Linked DNA regions of Homo sapiens: region 2 is linked to region 1. Evidence: fine-mapped expression QTL. Tissue or cell type: whole blood. Region 1 holds a variant in brackets; the other region holds the start of a gene. All regions are shown on one strand. Distances are from middle to middle.

Region 1 (5,650 bases):
ATGCCTGTTGCTTCCCTCATCTGGGAACATGACAGACCCAAATGGTGGAACTTGGGTTTTCTCAGGTAATATTTATTTAGGAGAATCATTTCAATGGTAGTTGAAAGTCAGGCCTGGAGAGAATCTAAGCCAAATAATCAAAATATAATTTTCACCTGTGATTTTGGCATAGAGACCATGGGTACCTGAGGCCAGGATGGGGTTACAGAAGAAAGAGAATGAGAAGAACATCATCACAAAAAATGTTTCTCCTGGGCAAGTTATCCCCTGAGTAGAGAGGCTGGGGCATCCTTCTGCTGGAAGGGTTTGGGCTGATGAAAGCTGATTCCCAGAAAATAAGTGATGACCAATCAGGAGGGGTCAGGTTTCTAAGGGCCAGATGCAGGAGGGCGTCCTCACTTATAAGACTGAGGAAGTGGTGTACGTGCAGACTGACTTAGAAAATTTTACTGAGCCAGTCAGCTCCAAAACACAAAGAGATACACTTTTGCCCTTATACTTTTAGGGTGGGTAGGCCTCCCGCAAAGCACACACTTGGAGACCATGCCTCCAGCCATTCTGTCTTTTGGCCTGGTGTGTATATGAAGGAAGAGGCAGCTACAGGCAGGCTTTGTTTTCCTTTTTTCAGTTTGGAACATTTAGAAGCAGATAAATTGGCATAAAGCAAACATAATTACATGTTAACTTCAAAGAGGGAAAATATCACGTACATTAAATTCCGTAACCTGCCATGAAGGAAATTATTCATGTTGACCTAATTTTATTTCTGATCTACCTACCATAGTTTAGAATAAAAATGTTGGTTGATTTTATAACTCAATGCTTTTATTGGAAAACAAGGTTTTTAAGTGGCAATATACTTCTGAATAGAATATGCATTGTCCCAACAGTGTATTTTACAAGTAACTGATAGCTATGGATAATGAGTGGCCACTTTGGAAGGGCATTTAACATCTTCTTAAAAAGTAAAACTATAGGCTCATTCATTTTTGTCTTTATTTAATTTTTTATATTTTATTGTTATTATTATTCATTTATTATTATTAATCATGGTTTCTTTACCTTCTTGTTTTCATGCATTTACTCAATCAAGTATCTCAGTTTCTGGTTAGAGCAATATTATTTTCACTCTTTCATTAATTTCTGGTTTATTTTATTTTAGGTGCTAGAGATGACACTGCAGAGTAGAGAACAAAGGAATCTTAGTAATTGTTCAATCCAATCTCCACACTTTAAAGATGAAGAAACTGGTATTGAGAAAAATACACAGCTTATCCAAGGTTGCACTGCTGGTTGGTAGCTGAGATGAATTTAGAACCCACATCTGATGACTACACCATATTGCTCCCAGTTTTCCTGTCTGTTCCACATGTAAAAGTCTGACTCTTCACTTCTCCTTTGAGTATATAGACTTTTAACATTTTTGTATGTCAAGATGGACTTTTCCTCATACCCAGCCCCTGCCTTTTCTCCTCCCTTCATACCTTGCAGGATCTTTAACAGAATTTAAAAGGAGTTTTTTGTTTTGTTTTGATGTATCTAATAAAAGTCAAGGGAGGGAGAGGGCCAGTATAAGCAAGAGTACAGTTTCCTAGTTTGTAGATGCGGTAGTCTGAGGAATCAGAAACACACAAAGGTTTGGAGAACTGGTACATGCTCCCAGGTGGGAAGCCAGGACTCTTGGTAGGATCTTGAGGACAAGGCAAAGGACAATAAGAGAGCGAGGGGATCCTAGAGGTGGAATCAAGGAAGAGAAACTAGAGAGAGAAAAAGGAACTGGCTATCCATCCATGATGGATCCTGTGTGGACTGATGGGTGGCTTGGCATCATCCTTTAGTAGACTTCATGTGGTTGAATAATTGGCCAATGGAAGGAATTTCTTTTTTGGTAACAGACTCTGTGTGTACAGTTATGGGTCTTAATTTATAATAAAAGGTTACATTGAAAATTGAGCATATTGGCAACTTTGGGCTTTAATATTACTACTGTGCTATTTAGGTCCCAACCATCCTAGCTAATCTGGGCATTCTTGAAACAGCTCTCATTATTGGTATGTCAAACCGTCTCATAGGGCATGTACTTAACAAAAGTGGAGTGAAGGGTTCAGGATGCATAAATGGGGTGAAGCTCGTGGTATTCCATTCCTTTTTACTGAAGCCACTCCTACCAGCTGCCTTCTAGATTGTTCACCTTATATGAGCATGGTGCAGTATAGAAGTTGTAGACTTTGGCCTCAGACAGATCTAAATTCTAATCTCAGATCACTACTTCCTGGTTGAGGACAAGATTTCTTTAACCACCCCAAGTCCCAATTTTCTCATGTCTAAAATGGCAGAAATAATGTGTACTTTGCAGGGTTGTTGTGAGAGTTAAGTAATATGGGTAATGCACTTGGGACAGTGCTTCACACAAAATTGTCAGTAAATGGTGATCTTTCTTTTCCTGGCACTACAAAGCTGAGGAGAGGAGGGAGGGAGGGAGATGAATGTCTGGAGGAAGAAAGGGCAGGAGTTTCTTCATCTTTGAGTGAAGGAGCATTGAGGGTTAGCAGGGATATAGGAATAGTGAGTTGGCTGGGAAGAAAAAAAGGATTAAAAGAGGAAAAGAATAGGAAAAAAGAAGGATACCATGGAGAAAATGGGCAACGGCCCCAGAAAGAAGAGCAAGAATGGCAGTGATGGTGAGCATTGCTGGAATGATGGAAGGTTCTCCGGCCCCGGTGATGCGTGGGCACCACCGGAGAGCTTGTTAGAAATGCAGAGTCTCTGTCCCTCCCCAGACCCTCTGAATCATAATTTGCAATTTAATGAGAGGTCCCCAGGTGATTCCCATATCCATTAATTCTGCAGAGTTGATGTTTTCATCTGCGGTGGCGGGGGGCGGGGGGGGGGGGTGCGGTGGGGGTGCGGCAGGTGTTCAGCAGATTCAAATCAAGAGGAAGTCCCCAAGGGCTTTAGGTTATCTCTAAATTTATCAGGAAGACTTCCCATCGAAGTGGGTTGAGATCCAGGATGTGTCACTTTCCTTTGTATTCTGATCTGGCTGGTCTGGACAGAGGTTCTGCAAACCAGAGTCATGCTGTGGACTCAGGGATTCTTGGAACTTCTCGTCTGAATCCAAAGTAGCAGGTGTGAAGGAACAAGGAAGTGGAGTGGTGAACATTATTTGTCTATAGAGGAAACAGGAAGAGAATGGGGATTCT[T/C]CTTTTAGACACATCTGGCAAGTGAGGCAGTCATCCTGCACCGCACCCTCCTCCCTGCGCCTTCAGCTCCCGGTGCCCTACCTTTTCTCTGAGCAACAGAAGCACTTTTGTCTGCATTTAGGTTGCTCATCACTGGTGCATTGGAAAGAACACTGGGCTAATGCCTTCGGGCAAGCCACTTCACCACCCTGGCTCCAGTCTCCTCATATGCAAGAAGGGCTTAAAATTGTGATGGTAGGTGCCCAGGGTTTCCCAGTGCAGTGGGGACTGGAACTGTGGTCTTCTGGTGACTGTTTCTACCTTATGGTACTCTCAAGTCAGCAGGTAGCCAGGTGATAAAAGGGAAAGAAGCTGCTGGGTGTAAAATTAAAAAGCGGCCCTCCCCTGGGGCCAGCGGGAGCGCAGAAACAGTTGCTGTTCAGTCTTGCCACTTGTCAGCATGAGGGAATTTGGGCCCAGGATAGCCAGACAATCTTTTTTTCCAAGAAAAACTAGAAGTCCAGACTTTTCTGTTAGATTTTCTTAGTTTTTTTTAGAGACTCTGAATTCATTAAACACACACACACACACACACACACACACACACACACACACACACAAAATGAGAAAACCTGCTGCTCATACAAAACAAATCTGAGGGCAGAGTTTTGAAGACTGGCAGTGAATTCATTGAAAAAAACAAAAACAAAAACACAATGAAAAAACCTGCTGCTCATACAAAACAAATCTGAGGGCTGCAGCAGCTCACAGGATGCCAGTGTGTGACGTCTTTCCTAAGTCTTTTAAAAGAGAATTGACATTTTCATTAGACTTGAAATAGGTAAACAGGACAAAGACTCTGGAGTAGCTGCTTACCCCAGTATGGCAGGCCCTGGCAATGCCTCCCCCAGGGATATAAAAACATGGATTTCGCTGGTTGTGGTGGCTCACCCCTGTAATCCCAACACTCTGGGAGGCCTAGTCGGGTGGATCATCTGAGGTCAGGAGTTTGAGACCAGCCTGGCCAACACGGTGAAATCCCGTCTCTACTAAAAATACAAAAAAATTAGCCAGGCATGGTGGTGCACGCCTATAATCCCAGCTACTCAGGAGGCTGAGGCAGGAGAATCGCTTGTATCTGGGAGGCGAAGGTTGCAGTGACCCAAGATCGCGCAATTGCACTCCAGCCTGGGCAAGAGGAGCGAAACTCTGTCTCAAAAAAAACAAAAACAAAAACAAAATCACACATACATACGGATTTGCCCTTCTTGATGGACACAGTTTGAATAAAATATAGTTGCCATACCCTTTCCATTGCAACTAAACATAAAAATACAAGAATATTCAATAAGTCATACACTATGGGATGAAAAGAGCATGTCATAATTAGCTGATTAACCACTGTCATCCTCTTGTCATATGCTGATACATGAGTAATGTATGTTTGGATTATTGATTGCATCCAAGCTAGGATTCCTTTGTGGCATCAGCAGAAGGACACGGTGACCACAGAGGTCCACCTCAAGTTACTACCTTTTGTGAAGTGATAATGGGGTGCACAGCCAGGTGTAATTCAAGCACATCTTCCTACAGGCAGTGGGTGGTTATGGCTGCACTGCTGTCGCTGTATTGCTTGCAGCCTTAATGGGAATCTTTATTGAAACGGAAATCTAATTCCATTTAGGTTAATAATATGCTCACTCAATCTTCCTTCCCAGAACTAGCCTGATCTTTACACCTTCTGAGGGGAAACTGGCAGTGATTCCTCACTGCAGGTGGATATCTCATCAGATAAAGCAGGGTTAGGAAAAATTTACATTTTTACTCCAAGCCATTTTGGTTGCTTTTTTTCATAATGAAAGTGCAGTAACTCTCTCTTATCTCTGCATGCAGTGGTGGTAAAAATGTGTAGGACCACAGTAGTTGGCATTTGTCTCCCAGATAGGCCAGCCTGAAACTTGGGAGTGGAATGAGCTTGTATTCAAGCTGTTGTTAACCAGGACTGTAGCTATTCATTCCAGCTCTACTCTTTTCATCCAGGCTATTGCATGATCAATGGCTATGGGAATAACTTACAGGGCCAAAAGAGGGTTCTGGGAATGTGATAATTTGGATGCAATTTCTATCTTTCCCACCTCCGACTCCAAAAGTTCTTCCTTCTGGACTCAAACAGCTGCTAACTCCTGTGGATGGCTGGGTGCCAGTGAGGCCTCAGGCTTTGGTGGGTTCCAAGCATACAGAATTGTAAGCTTCCTTCTTCCAGTGGGCTGGGCAGGTGCCTAGAGAATAATGTCAAAGGTGAACAAGGGAAGACAGTCAATCCTGAGTGGAGAGGGGCTGTCAGGGCTAATGTCAACACAAGCCTAGTGTGACTGTGCTGGGTTTTCCTAGCTGAAGGGGCCAAGGAGGAGCTGAATGGGAGACTGAGTCCTCTACCTGGAAGCTGGGGCAGTGTGAGAAGTTTGGGG
Region 2 (5,650 bases), 260 kb before region 1:
TAAGGTTTTTTTTTTTTTTTTTGAGACAGAGTCTTGCTCTGTCATCCAGGCTGGAGTGCAGTGGCACGATCTTGGGTCACTGCAACCTCCGCCTTCTGGGTTCAAGCGATTCTCCTGCCTCAGCCTCCCGAGTAGCTGGGACTACAGGCGTGTGCCACCATGCCCAGGTAATTTTTTGTATTTTTAGTAGAGACGGGGTTTCATCATGTTAGCCAGGATGGTCTCGATCTCCTGACCATGTGATCTGCCTGCCTCGGCCTCCCAAAGTGCTGGGATTATAGGCGTGAGCCACTGCACCCAGCCGTGGCTCAGGTTTTATTAGCAAACAAACTATGAAAAACCAGGAGAAGTGGATAAAGAATAGGAAGAAAGAATCACAAGCCAAAAGAACTGCAAAGGAAAAATCAGGCAGTTTTCTTGAGTTTCTAGCTGTACAGGAAAAGGGTAGGGTGGAGACCTGTAAAGAGAAGTATCTTACCTGTGTTGGGCCTCCAGTTGTCAAAGTCCTGGGCAACACCCCCGGTAGGATGCCCAGGGGGAACTCCTGGGCAGAGGTGAAGGGCTTTGCTACGTGAATTATCCAGTCTCATTAGCTGGTGATGAAATGGTTCACAAAGCACAGATTCTGAGTGCCTTGCCAGTTTTGGGAATTATTTGGAGACTGATATTCTTTCACGTATCACACAGTGGCAGAGAAGGTAATTACCTTCTGGTTGCTGGCACCTTCAGTGGAAGAGCAAATATTAAGTGAGAGCTACTACTCTGAGGCAGGCAGTATTCTAACACTTATATATACAATAACTCTTTAATAACTAATTAGTAATGATGTTATTATCTCCATTTTATAGATGAAGGAACTGAGGCTTTTTGTCTCCAGCAAAATTAGCAGAGCCACGGTTTGAACTCTGGCAGTCTGTCTTTAGAGGCTGTCTTATCCTAGGAATACCACCAGTTAGTTCAACAAGCAGCTTGTGGAGGACATAGTATGTTCCTTGCCTTGGAACCCGGCACTCCTGAGTCACAAACAGTCCATTTTTTTCACCCGGAAAAGGAATGGAGAAGCTGGGCCAGACTATTTCTTTTTTCTTTTTTTTTTGAGACAGAGTTTTGCTCTTGTTGCCCAGGCTGGAATGCAATGGCCTGATCTCTGCTCACTGCAACCTCCACCTCTCAGGTTCAAGCTATTCTCCTGCCTCAGCCTCCCAAGTAGCTGGGATTACAGGTATGAGCAACCATGCATGGCTAATTTTGGATTTTTAGTAGAGACTAAATTTTAGTAGAGACTAGATTTTAGGTTTCACCATGTTGGTCAGGTTGGTCTGGAACTCCTGACCTCAGGTGATCAGCCCTCCTCAGCCTCCTAAAGTGCTGGGATTATAGGTGTGAGCCACCACGCCCGGCCAAAGTATTTCTATATAATGTGGTACACTGTTAAACAGGAAAGTCCACTGGTGCTCGACAGAAATTCTTGTGTTCCCAAGCACATCTTAAACGTGCTTGGAAAGTTACTGAGCTAAAGTGACTGACCTTGAAGGCACAAACCAATTCAGTCACTATTCAGTCAACAAACCTACTGCAGATTTCATTGTCACTTTGCTTCCCTGAAACTTACTTTGTTTTAATGAGACTGCCACGCAAAAGTGAAATTTAGACAAATTTAGAATCTTACTACTCTGTGGTTTACTTTAAAGACCGAAAAATGCTTGGGCTAAACCTTAAATAAAAGTATTAAGTCTTGCAATTAAAAATTGAACCAAAAATACTAACGAGAGTGTTCTGCAAAACTGAAATTTAAACAAATTTACAACCATACTAGGTTTGGTCTCTGCTGTTTGCTTTAAAGACTGAAAAACACTTGGGCTAAACCTTCAATAAAAAGATTAAGTCTTGCAATTAAAATTTAAACTCAAAATACTCCACCAGTAAAATTACTTCAACTTTTGTTGTATGCTTGAAAGTTTTCACAATAAGATGGATAGGAAAAAAGTATTCCACCAAAATCTAAAGAGTGATGACGAATCTCCTCTTTGTGCCGGTTCATTAAATTGCCTAATGGCAACTACGGATAAGTAAATGCCTTTATCTCGAACGGTTCTGCTCTTTAAACGAATGACGGGCAACAGAGACCGAAAAAGTGTATCCCCAGGAATTCGAGAGGGACGGTGAATTGTAGTGGGACCGCCAGGAGGGGAGGTTCCTGCCCCCGAGTAGAACCTGGGAGCAGAGCCGCTCGGGGAGGGCGGTGGGGGCTTCAGGGCCGCGGAGGGGGTCCCCTCAGGGTGGGCCGTCTCCTCCTCGCCCGCCGCAGGCAGGAGCGCGGGGGACCGAAACCCTGTAGTTTGCAGCGTCAGGCAGCGGGTCTGCGCCCAGCGAGCGGCTCCCCAGCTCCTGGGAAGATGCGGACCCGGGACGCCCCCGTGAGCTCACTGCGCCTGGCTGACACGAGGCGCTCACAGAACAAAGCAAGGGCTTCGGGGAGGGCGCGGCCGCGGGGCCGAGCGCGCAGATCGCTCCGGACCCGGACACCGCCTGCGAGGAGCGCCGACCAGCCGGGAAGGGTTCGCGCTAGGCGGCGCCCGGGTCCCGTCGGCCAGGGTGAGCGTCCGGCCCGCGTCCGCGCCACGCCCGCCGCGTTCCCCTTTCCTCTGCGGCGGGCCGAGAGATAACCCTGCCCGAGGGGTCCCGGCGCCCGCCCCCCACGCGGTCGCACTGGAATTCGCAGCCCCTCTCGGGTCCCCGGGGCGCATTTTGCAGTCTGAGTGGCAATGCACTTGCTCCAGGACAGGCGGCTACCCCGCCGCAGCGGAGGCGCGGACTTTTCTTTTGGGGGGTAAGATGGCAGGTCCCGGGAAACAAAGGAAACTTGGGCCCGGCCCCCAGCGCGGCGTGTGTGGCTCGCGTGTGTGCCCCGGGTCCTGTGCCGGAGGCGCTGGGCGCCTGTGCCAGCCTGCCCGCAGCCCGCAGCCGGCGCGGGGATACCAGCCGGGTACCAGCAGCCGGCGGCGCCCGCCCACCTGCAGCGGCGCCCGCCCGGGGGGCTCCCGGCCCGCGAGGGCCGGAGCGGCGGTGGCAGTGGCGGCGGCGGCGGGGGCGCTGGGGAACCCGGAGCGGGGCGGGGAAGGCGGGGAGGCGGCGGGCGGCGGCGGAGGGGAGCCGGGGTGGGCGGGCGGCGCCACGTCACGGCTATTGTGGCTTTCCTGGTATATAAGGTCTCGCCGGCTCGCCGCGCTCCCCACCTTGCCTGCGCCCGCCCGGAGCCAGCGGTTCTCCAAGCACCCAGCATCCTGCTAGACGCGCCGCGCACCGACGGAGGGGACATGGGCAGAGCAATGGTGGCCAGGCTCGGGCTGGGGCTGCTGCTGCTGGCACTGCTCCTACCCACGCAGGTGAGGCCCTGGCGCCCGGCGGGGCTCGAGGGCCGTTCCCGGGGTGGGGGCAGGGGAGATGGACCCGGTCCCGGGGGACCGTCCTGCGCTCCTGCCTCGGGCCACGGACAGGGACCGGGAGAGAATCTTGCTTAGCTGACCAGGGGAGAGGGCCATGTGGACCCCATTTTTCCATTCCCTTGCGTGCTGCCCCCCCTCCTCCCACGGCCCTGGGAACAATGCAGCTCCGCGTGCGGGCTGAGAGGACCCTGCCCCACCCCAGGTTCCACGCTGTCCCTTCCCAGGCAGCCAGGTGACTACTTCCCACTTTCACCCAGAGGCCCGAGGTGCCTGCAGGGATTAGCGCCTGGAGAGCTCGGGCTCCCTGGGGACGTTGTCCCTGGGTCCCTGAGGACTCGCTTTCCCCTAGGAATGTCTTCGCGCTCCCCGCGCTCTACACAAAGAGAGGCGACGGTCCCTTTCGGGGAGGGCGGCTCACGCCCATCCTCCACCCTCGGAGTTGGATTGGGTATCCCGGAGAAGCTACGGCTATCTGGCCCTTTTTAAACAAACCCCGGTTCCGGGCTGAAGCCGAGGCGGGGACCCTCTCCTGACGCTGCGCTCTCTGCGAGGCAACCTTTCACGTCCATCGCTTGTCATCTTAGGATCCCCATGTTATTTTAGCCCAGATTGGCTAGTTCTGGGGAGGCAGCATGGTGGGACGATTCTGTCCCGAGTCCCCGCCAGGCTTTGTTCGGGTCGCCGCTACCAGCGCGGTCTCCCTAGATCCTCCATCCGGGGAACCTCGCCCCGGGTGCGGGTACCCGGGGCCGCGCAGCGCTGCCTCGAGGGTGTATGGATGCACCGCGCCGGCGAGAGAGACCGGGGGCTGGGCCTGGGAGACCCTAGCGGGGGCGGGGGCGAAGAAGGTACGTTTGTTTGGGTCAGTTCGGGTTTGGAGGATGGGAGTGACGGCTCTCCAGCGCCTTCGATTGGGGTTAATCGAGGACTGTCACTGGGGCTTCTCCCCCAAAGTTGGGCGCGCTGCGTCCTCCGTCCCCAGACATCGAAAGTCCGGGCTCACCTGGGAGTGCAGCCTGAGTGTGGAACGCGCTTCCCCACCGCTGGCGGGGTAACCGTACCCTATTGTCTTCCTCCCAGTCCGCTGCGCTCCCGAGCCTTCCTCAATTCTTTGATGGGGGAGGGGCGCGGCTGCGAGAAACCGGCCCCCTCCACTCCCCGCCCCATCTTCTCTCCGACCAGATTTTTTTCCTCCAACATTGTAAGTGAGAAGTTTTAATAATGCGAATAAATCTAGCTTGGGAGAGAAAATTTTGTTTAGTGTCAGTTTAATAAACATAATTTTTTTGTTGGTGTAGAGGATCTTTAGATCCTCAGATTGATACACCAGGTTTTAAAAAGAAAACATCACCTGCTGCAGTAAAACTCATTGCATGAATAAAGAACAGGTTACTTTGCGGGATCCCAAACAAGGTGTCCAAAACAGGCACCCTGTTTTAAGTAAATTACCATATTAATGCTTTTCTTTATTGGGAGTGCCGTTTCCTGATGGGACACACTAAATCTTGCACACAGTAGGTGCCCGATAAATAAATTTGACTTGATCAAGATTTTTTTGTTGTTGTCACTAATCTATTTTGGATAGGATTTGTACATTTCTGTAGTCAATATTTGTTTAATGACCTTATGGATTTTACAACAAAAGGAGCTGGTGCTGATGTAGGAGGGCTTTATCTTTGGATTAATAGGCAGCCAAATGTACACGGGGCCCAGACTCTTGCCTGGTGCCACGTCCTCCCTCCAGCCTGTAATCAGAAGCTCTTGTAAACCCTCCCTTGCAGTGAGGGCTGAAAACTCCGATCTGCCTTTGTTCCATGACAAAGGAGAGATTATCACGTGCCCTACTGGACTGTGCATTTCGTGGCTTGAAAAATCAGTGGTGAATGATGCCACTCAGACGCTGGGACACTGGGAGAACCTTGGTTCTTGGCCACAGCAATGAGCTTGGCGACCAGTGAGGCTGCTGCTGGTGAAACTTAACACCATAACCTCTCGTTGTCTTTTGTGAAATCGTTCCGACTTCATGGTGTTTTCTTGAAGTCATTCTGCCTTAAAGGAAAAACTCATTTTCTTTTTCAATTTAACACAAATATTGTGGCCATTTTTTAGAAGAGTTACTATTTCAAATTTCAAGGGAGAAGATAAGACTGCATTTCCCCCTTAAGGAAAAGGCTAAGTTACCAAGGCTGTATTAAATTGAGTAT

What was found. PIP is the estimated chance that this variant, and not a neighbour inherited with it, causes the effect.
Region 2: it holds the start of CD24, and the variant in region 1 is fine-mapped to the expression of CD24 in whole blood (TOPMed, PIP above 0.99). The same link has a PIP of 0.9 or more in blood mononuclear cells.

What each region holds. Positions count from the first base shown.
Region 1 is chr6:106,713,755-106,719,404 of GRCh38, reverse strand. LINC02532 (long intergenic non-protein coding RNA 2532) reads left to right here. Exons shown (of 7, transcript NR_033557.2): 7 at 1,163-1,953. It overlaps LOC105377927 (a long non-coding RNA gene), which reads right to left. Exons shown (of 4, transcript XR_942841.3): 3 at 5,318-5,461; 4 at 2,893-3,170. Among named protein-coding and RNA genes, the nearest start is that of LINC02526, 21 kb to the right of the region's middle. The variant T/C (reference allele first, on the strand shown) is at 3,204.
Region 2 is chr6:106,972,314-106,977,963 of GRCh38, reverse strand. It overlaps CD24 (CD24 molecule), which reads left to right and starts at 3,235. Exons shown (of 2, transcript NM_001359084.1): 1 at 3,235-3,386. The coding sequence starts at 3,318. RefSeq lists silencers at 2,474-2,693, 2,734-2,883.